Linked DNA regions of Homo sapiens. The protein of the gene in region 1 interacts with the protein of each later gene in a biochemical or structural test. Each region holds a gene or a part of one and is shown on either strand. Other genes may lie near its edges. The genes, in order: PPRC1 and NRF1.

What was found.
Region 2: the proteins of PPRC1 (region 1) and NRF1 form a complex in vitro, tested with the Homo sapiens proteins (one study listed by BioGRID).

The regions. Positions count from the first base shown.
Region 1 is NC_000010.11:102,131,379-102,135,912, reverse strand, and holds the start of PPRC1 (peroxisome proliferator-activated receptor gamma coactivator-related protein 1), read right to left. Parts: upstream 2,874-4,534; 5' UTR 2,845-2,873; coding exon 2,692-2,844; coding exon of another isoform or gene 2,533-2,691; intron 2,171-2,532; exon of another isoform or gene 2,071-2,170; intron 1-2,070. UniProt on the Homo sapiens protein: Acts as a coactivator during transcriptional activation of nuclear genes related to mitochondrial biogenesis and cell growth. Involved in the transcription coactivation of CREB and NRF1 target genes.
Region 2 is NC_000007.14:129,614,415-129,618,227, reverse strand, and holds part of NRF1 (nuclear respiratory factor 1), read right to left. Parts: intron 1-3,813. UniProt on the Homo sapiens protein: Transcription factor that activates the expression of the EIF2S1 (EIF2-alpha) gene. Links the transcriptional modulation of key metabolic genes to cellular growth and development.

The DNA.
Region 1 (4,534 bases):
CCAAGATCATCCGAGTGCTAAGCCCAGGCTGAAAGTAAGCCAGCCATCAGCACCTCTAACTTCAAAAACCTCCCAAGTAGCTTTCACCCACCAAACCTGCTCCCTCCAGGGTTCAAAAACAGTCAGAAACTTTTTAAATATGTATCTGATCACTGCCTGAGACCCTCCCTAAATCCCTTCAATGGCATTTTACTGCTCTTAGCATTAGGTTTAAACTCTTTAATATAGCTTACAGGCCGGGTGTGGTGGCTCACGCCTGTAATCCCAGCACTTTGGGAGGCTGAGGTGGGTGGATCACTTGAGGTCAGGAGTTCAAGACCAGCCTGACCAATATGGTGAAACCCTGTCTCTACTAAAAATACAAAAATTAGCCATGTGTGGTGGTGCTTGCCTGTAATCCCTGCTACTCAGGAGTCTGAGGCAGGGGAATTGCATGAACCCAGGAGATGGAGGTTGCAGTGAGCCAAGATCACACCACTGCACTCCAACCTGGGTGACAAAGCAAGACTCCATTTCAAAAACAACAACAAAACAACAAAATATATATATATATAGCTTACAAAAGTCCTGTCTTCCCCACCAGACCTCTGCTCCAGCGTGTCCTCTCCCACTACTCTGTAGTACAGGTCTCGGTTTCTCCAATAAGCCATGCTCTCTTCCTCCTTGAGGGCTTCACTTTTCCCTGATTAAAGGTTTTCCACAGTTTTAACATCTCAGCTTTAAATGTCCCGTCTCAGACTCTGCAAAGTAGATCACTACTGCCAATTACATAATCCCAAATATCCTGCACTTTTGTCTCATTCATTATTATTTATCATCGGTCTATCCTGATTAAAACATAGATCCTGAGGGATAAAGACCATGTTTATGTGGTTTACCAGTTTGTCCCCTGTGCCTAAACATAATGGTATTTCAATAAATAACTGGCTGACTGACCAGCTCACATATACCCATCTTTGGTTTTCGGGGGAAGGGAATGACAATCTCTCCATGAGATCCTCTCCAATCCCAAATTACTACTTAACTATTATAGCTGGATCTTGGATCCTTCCTGACTCTCCCTGTGCTATTTGGGAATTCAGTGATGGGTGAGGTCAGGTGTGAGGGTGTGTCTCTGACTGGACACCTGATGGAGGTGAAGATGAATGGTTCATAGAGAGCTGGGCATTGCCTTGAGATTCTGGCCTAGACCCTGGGGCTCTGGTAGGTAGGCAGCACCAGCCCCAAAAGATGTGACCTCTGAGAAAGTAGGGGAGAAGGGATCAGCGCTCCCAAATTCTTGCCCCAGAAACCATTCTCCCCTGGGCAAGGGCCTGGATTGGTCTGCCGGACCTGATATTACCAGGCAGCCTGCAGCCCAACTCCCACCTAGTAACACACAAAAAATGCTGTCAAGGACTCAGCTTAATTGTTTAAGAGAGGTAACAGTTCAAACTAATTCCTGCCCCTTCTACCCTGGGTGGAAACTTTTAAGAAGCCCTCCACTGTAGAGTAGAACAATAACACTTTTTGAAGGCCAAGAAAAAAATATCTAACAGAATCCTCCTCATCCAGTGTATGTTCAACTGTTGAACATGTTGAACAGTTCTCAAACCGCCTCCAACTTTTCCCATCCCCAGCAAAAAATCCGAAGAGCCTTAAGTACGGACCACCCCAGTTTCTGCGTGTCAGATTACAGGAGCATGCCTTCCCAAAAGAGATGCTGGAGGAAAAAGTGAGGAGAGGATTCCCTTTCCCTTTCTTAACCTTGTCCCAGGTGTATGTTGACACTCCCCATACCCCTTGAATCACTAATAAGGCAAGACTGCAAGGCAACCAAAACGCCAATGCCCGTGACTCACAACCCACCCCAAGCCGGTCAGACGGAAGCGCCACAAACTCACTCCTCCACAACCCTTCAGCCTCAGCCCTCTACCCTCCCCATCACACTCAGCCATCCGCAGGGAACAAACTCCCGCAACATCTGGAGAGTCCTTCACCATCCGCAGTGGAGAGACGTTGCGGACCCAAGCAGCAGGGAAAAAAAAAACCTCCAAGGCTCTGAACAAAGTTGACTCTAGCAGCCCTTACCTTCCTTCCCGGCCCGGGCCTCCAGCCCCGGCAGGAGATGGCGGGACCCGTGGAGACACACCCAGTTCGCGTCAGCCAGGCTCCAAGGCCGATACTAGATGCCCGACAGCCTGGGACGGGAGCCACGTGGACGTTCCTTCCCCGCCCCCACGTGGACCCGCTGCCTGCGCCCCCCTCCACCAGGAGCCCGACCCACGTGGATGCCCGGGCCGCCTAGAGGGGGAGGGGAGGCAGACAAGTTCTCCCGGGAAAATTGCTCCCCCAACCCCACGTGGCTCCGAAAAGGGAACTGCGGCGCCGGGCTCGGGGAGCCTCACTGGGCATCCTTACATGGAGGTCTCAGCCTTCGACCCCAAGTCCGAACCCCTGACCCCCAGCCGCGGGTTATGTTTCCGACACCCCGCTCTCCCCCTCCGGCGTCCCCCAGGAATGGCCGTAGAGACGCTGCCTCTGCCCGCCTACCCCCAGCAAACGGCCTAGGGCCCACTTGCTCCGGCCCGGCTCCCGCGGCCACCCGGCATCGACTCTCAGGCGCTTCCTCTCTTTCCTGTGGCGTCCACGTGTCACCGCCCGGCACACACCGCTTTGCTGCCTGTCGCGGGCCGCCAGCCAACCTCTCACCTGCTCGCCGCCGCTCACAGCGCCCAAAGTCCCATACGGCGCTTGGCTTCGACTTCCCCAACCACTGCCGCGGGCTCCCCCGCCAGGGTCCGGACCGGGGCCCCCACTCGGGGGCGGCGCGACTCCGTCTCTCCGTCCCCGGCGCGCCGCCATCTTGGCCCCTGAACACCCAGCGCTGCTCTGATCGCTGGCGCCGCCTCGCCCAGCCGATTGTGGGAAAGGAACTACAACTCCCGAATGACACTGCAAGACTACGAATCCCAGAGAGCCGTGCGGCGAGACCCACTTGCACCCTGGAAGAAGGCCCTGGCCTCGCGCGAAGGTTCCTGGGAGTAGTAGTCCCTTTAAGTGGGGACCGTTTGGCACTAGCTGCAGGCATCCTGTAGGGCTTAGTTTTGCGTTACACTGGGATACCGATTTAGGGAGCGCTCAGCAGTTAGGGGGAAAGTTAACATTTGCGTATTTTATTGTCGTTAACTTGTCCAACTGTTGGAACGTCCTCTTTGACGTTCTACCTGCTGTACGTTCCTTTCACCTTAGTCCAAGTGGGGCCAAGTGGGCCTGTATATGTTTTGAAACACCACCCCCTAGTGGGCACTTGCGCTCCAAGCGCTAATCCTCACCTAATCCCATATTGCGGCAGTACTGCAAACTTAATCGGAAAATGTCGCGTTCTCCGCCCTCTCTGCTACTACTCAGAAACTTACGTTGCCTTCTCTATCAAATTTGTTTCTTGCTGTTTCAGGTCTCCTTGCTGTTCCCTAAAGACAACAGGTGTTCTCCTGCCTATATGTCGACCTGGAATACTTGAACCTCAAAACATTTCATGCCTTATTTAATCTAGGAAAGGCTTTGGTTGTCCTAGCCAAGAGGGATCCCGCTCTGCGTTTCTACGGTCCATCACTGTCTCTACTCTTCATTCATTTGCCACTTAAAAGCTACTTCATATTTGCTATTTTTAAATAACTTTTTACAAAGCACAAAAATTATTTCAAAAAGTACAAGACTGTTTAGAGGAAAAAAAGTAGTAGGCCTGCAAATTATAGTTCTACTGCCCAGATTTAAACCCCTTGTTACTTTTAGTGTGTATTCATTGACGCTTTTTTCTATGAATGGAAAAATATATAGGGGCACAAATTGGTGATTTGCTTTTTTTATGTAACAATATGTTAATCCACTCACTAGCTAAATATTTACTGAGCCTTTAGCACCAGTTCTATTTTATGAATGTATTGTTATTTAAATTATATTGAAGTTGTTTCTGGCCGTGGCTCGGTGACTCACACTTGTAGTCCCAGCACTTTGGGAGGCTGAAGTGGGTGAATCACTTGAACTAAGGAGTTTGAGACCAGCCTGGACAACATGGCAAAACCCCACCTCTACCAAAAATTTAAAAATTAGCTGGACATGGTGGCACACATCTGTGGTCCCAGCTACTCGGGAGGCCGAGGCAGGAGGATTGCTTGAACCCAGGAGGTGGAGGTTGTAGTGAGCCAAGATCATGCCACAGCACTCCAACTTGGGTGACAGAGTGAGACTTCTTCTCAAAAATAAATAATATTTAAGTTGTTTACAGTTTCTCACTATTACATATTATTATGATGAACACCCTTGCATATGTCATGTACATGTACCTTTGCACTTTTGTGCAATCTTTCTGTGGAATAGTTTCCATGAAATTCAAGTGCCGAGTTAAACAATGCATGTATTTGAAATACAGTAGAAAATTGCCCTTTAGAAATATTGCATCACTATACATCCCCACACATGTTCATGAAAAGAGAGGACCTTTTCTGGACCTTTTCTTAGATGTTCTTTCTTTTTTTTTTTTTTGTTAGACAAT
Region 2 (3,813 bases), on another chromosome or scaffold:
CCTATCTTAAAGGCATCATCATCACCCAATAACCACACTATAATCTTTAACTCTTTACTCAATTGTCACTCAAATCTGACAACTGTGAAGTAAAAATTATCCCCAGAATCGATGTCCTTTTACATCACAATTCAATACTCTCACAAGTCTCTAGTCAAATCTTTACATGTCATCTTTTTAAAAACCATAGTGGATGTCCTACTCAAACCTCTTATGGTCCCTAAATGCCTATAGAATAAAGTTCACACTCATGAGCATGGAATTACAAACTCTTCCCAATATGGCCACAACCTTATCAGTTTCACTTTCCACTATTCTCCAAGTCGAGCAAAATCCACTTGCTAGTTCTCAAATCAGACTACTGATGCCCTTCCTCTCAGCCCCTCTTCTCCATCAGTAATGCAGCTACTCCCCCTTCCAAGTCCTACTCAAACTTCCCCTATGTGAAAAGTCTTCCCTAACCTCACTTTTCTCTGTGTATCATTCTCCTCTCCCTAGAAGGAATTTCTCCCTCCTCCTATAATCCCACACCACTCTTTGTTTGCTCTATTTTGGTTCTCTAGAAGTTGTAACATAGCTAGTTGAGCCCATACCTTTCTGCTCTACACGACAAGGCCCAAGATTTGTTACTCTAGCACCTAGTACATGCCCAGAATGTGGTATATCTTTAATCATCGTCAGGTGAATGAATGAGTGGCAAAACTCCAAAGTGAGAATACACTTAAGGAGGTTATTTCTTAATGGAGAGAATGCTTCACTCTCCTTTGAACATAAAACAAGAATCAGGTCCCCTAGTCCCCAACTCCCCATTTCTAGTCCACTGCGCAAACAGTTTTAAGCAATGTTTCATTGGGACATTTCCTCATTTCCCCTTGTTCTTTGTAGGTTTAGCTGCCAGCCTAACCACATTAGCATTCAGTAGCAGCAACAAAACGGACTCTTAAAGTTCTAAAAAGCAAAAACTTTACAATTACCAACAGTAAAATACATGCTCTTTTTAAAAAAAACTGTCTTAATATATATGCATACAAAGCTCATTCTTCATGAAGATTCAGAAAATGGCTTGGCATAGTTTATCCCAACAGGCACCACTTAAAGAGTTCTTAAGAAAATGTCCACTTAAGCCATCAGCCAAACTTTTCACATTTGTTACCACAGAAATCAGCATGCATGAATTAATCGAAATACAATGCATATTAAACAATGCAATTACTATAGTCTAAATCACCAAACTGATAACCCATACAAAAGTAGCTCTTACAACTTTTTTTGAGAATATTTCCCCTAAAAAATTCCAGTGATCATCCCAACCTACAAAACTAGATTATTTTACTAGTATCATCTTCTCTTTACCCCTCTTCTCCCCACCAACACTCCCTCCAACACACACACACTTCTCCTTAAGAGAAACGGCTTCCTCAAGAAATTATCTGATGGTTCAGTAGCAGTTGGAGTTTTACACAAACTATGTTGTGATTGGGCAAGGCAGACTACCAGATCTGGGATTCAGTAGACCATTCCTTACTGTCAGATTATCTTCTAAGTGACTGCTCTTAGAGAAACAACACAGATTTGCCTCAAGAGATTACAAATGTGGTAGGCCTACCTTAACAGCAACTAGTTTTTTTTAAGAAACACGGTCGCACTGTCGCCCAGGCAGGAACACAATGGCATGATTATGCTCACTGCAACCTCAAACTCCTAAGTTCAAGTGATCCTCCTGCCTCAGCCTCCTGAATAGCTCAAACTATAGGCATATGCCACCATACCCAGCTAGTTTTTCGTTTTTTTGTTTTTTTAAATATTCTGTAAAGACAGGATGTCACTACATTGCCCAGGCTGGTCTAGAATTCCTAGCCTCAAGCAATCTTCCTGCCTTGGCCTCCCAAAGTGCTGGGATTATAGGCATGAACCACCATAACCAGCCATTGTTTTCTAATATACTAGAACATCTCTGTAAAGTTTTATTTCTAGCCCTTCTTTGGGTCATAGAAAGTTTACTTGGTATCACATAAATGTTCACATTTTAAAACATTTTAGGCCTAAAGACCACAACATGATGAAGCCTTTTGGATGTTTTGCTAACTACACTGCATTAAGTTGGGCTGAAAATACATTAGCCCAATTCTGAAGTGCACTTTTGAAAAAATAAAAAATATATATATGTGTGTGTGTATATATATATATTCTAAGGTATAAGCAATCCACTTATTTTTCTTGAGCAGTCAAAAATTCCTTTCCCAAGTTTTGTCCATATTGCACTAAAATAACTTCAAACAAAGCATTGTTGTTGCTTGAGGATTAAAAGTTTCCAATAGCTCAATATGGTTTTAATCTCCTGGAAACACCTGAAATTCATTTGTTTCACCTCCTTTTACTATTTATCTTCCAGTCTGTTTACCTTAGTAGAAAACTGATGGATAAAAGTACTAACTGAAAACCCAAGAAAGTGGGTAATCCACCCTCTAGTTAATAAGGAAGGAAATATGATACACAAGGCACAAAAATTAACATGTATCTTGAGACTCAAAAAACATTGGACTTGGTCTAAATAAAATGTTTCTAAAATAACAAGTGGATTCCTTTTTCATTGCTGTTTTACTAAGCATTCATGGAAAATTATATTTGGGTAAGCTCAGGCTGAAAACACTAGCTTTAGCTATCAAGGAAAACATGAAAGAACATAAAGAAAATGTATTTTAGTATAGAACATTTCCTGAAATGTTTTTTACAAAATCAAAGATTTGCATTTTAAGATTGATTTTCCAAATACTCTATATATACATATTAATAAGCATCACACAGTCACACACAAACATCTAAATTCAGATATCCCATTTCCTAGATGATTACTGGCCCAGAAAGGGCGCATCTAAACTCTTGAGGTTAAAGTAGACATTTGTGAAATTCAACAGCCCAGGGAGTTTCCCCTCACCCTTCAATTTTTCACAGTGGCACTGTGTGAATGAATAAGCCTGCTTCAGCATGAAGCAACAGGCTTGTCTAAAGACATCTGACAGAAGCTGAATGTATACATTAACTTCCTGTTGAGGTAGGACTGTAGACTGTTTCTAAAGACTGACAGTTCATAGTTCCTCCAGAAACCAAAAAATCAGCATGCCTTTTCAAATACTCAGGGAAAAATTTTAATTTCAGTAATTACTGTTCATTGTTATTATTCTTCAACTTTACTGAATGCCTTATTCCATACAAGAAAAGGCATAAAAATTTAATCCCAGACCACAGGAGCTTAAATTTCCCTTAAAACAAGTCACTCATTCGTGATTATTTACATAAAATGCTTCTAAAGACAACCCAGAGATTTGGTTGAACCTACAGTGTGCAGGCAATGCAAATTCAGGTATTTAAATCATGGGAAGTTGGCCTTCGGTTCCCTAACAAAATTAGACAAGTGCATAATTATCGTTTAATAAAACAAAAAACCTACAATTTGGGGTCCTAACGACATACACAGGAATTCAGAAGGAAACCTGAAATCCTTTCTCCTTTAAACCTTCTATATCTGGACAAGGGCCCTCATTATCTTCTACTTCTATAGCTCCTTCTCTTAACACAGGAGCTAAATTTCCTTGAAACATGTTATGAAGCCACTGCCAGCACGGTGGCACTTGCCTATAGTCTCAGCTACTGGGGAGGCTGAGGTGGGTGCATTCCTTGAGCCCAGGAGTTCAAGGCCAGCTTAGGCAACATAGCAAGATCCCCATCTCTAACTTAAAAAAAAAAATTATATATATGTATGTACACACACACACACACACACACAAATACATATTTTTATAAGAAAATTATTGG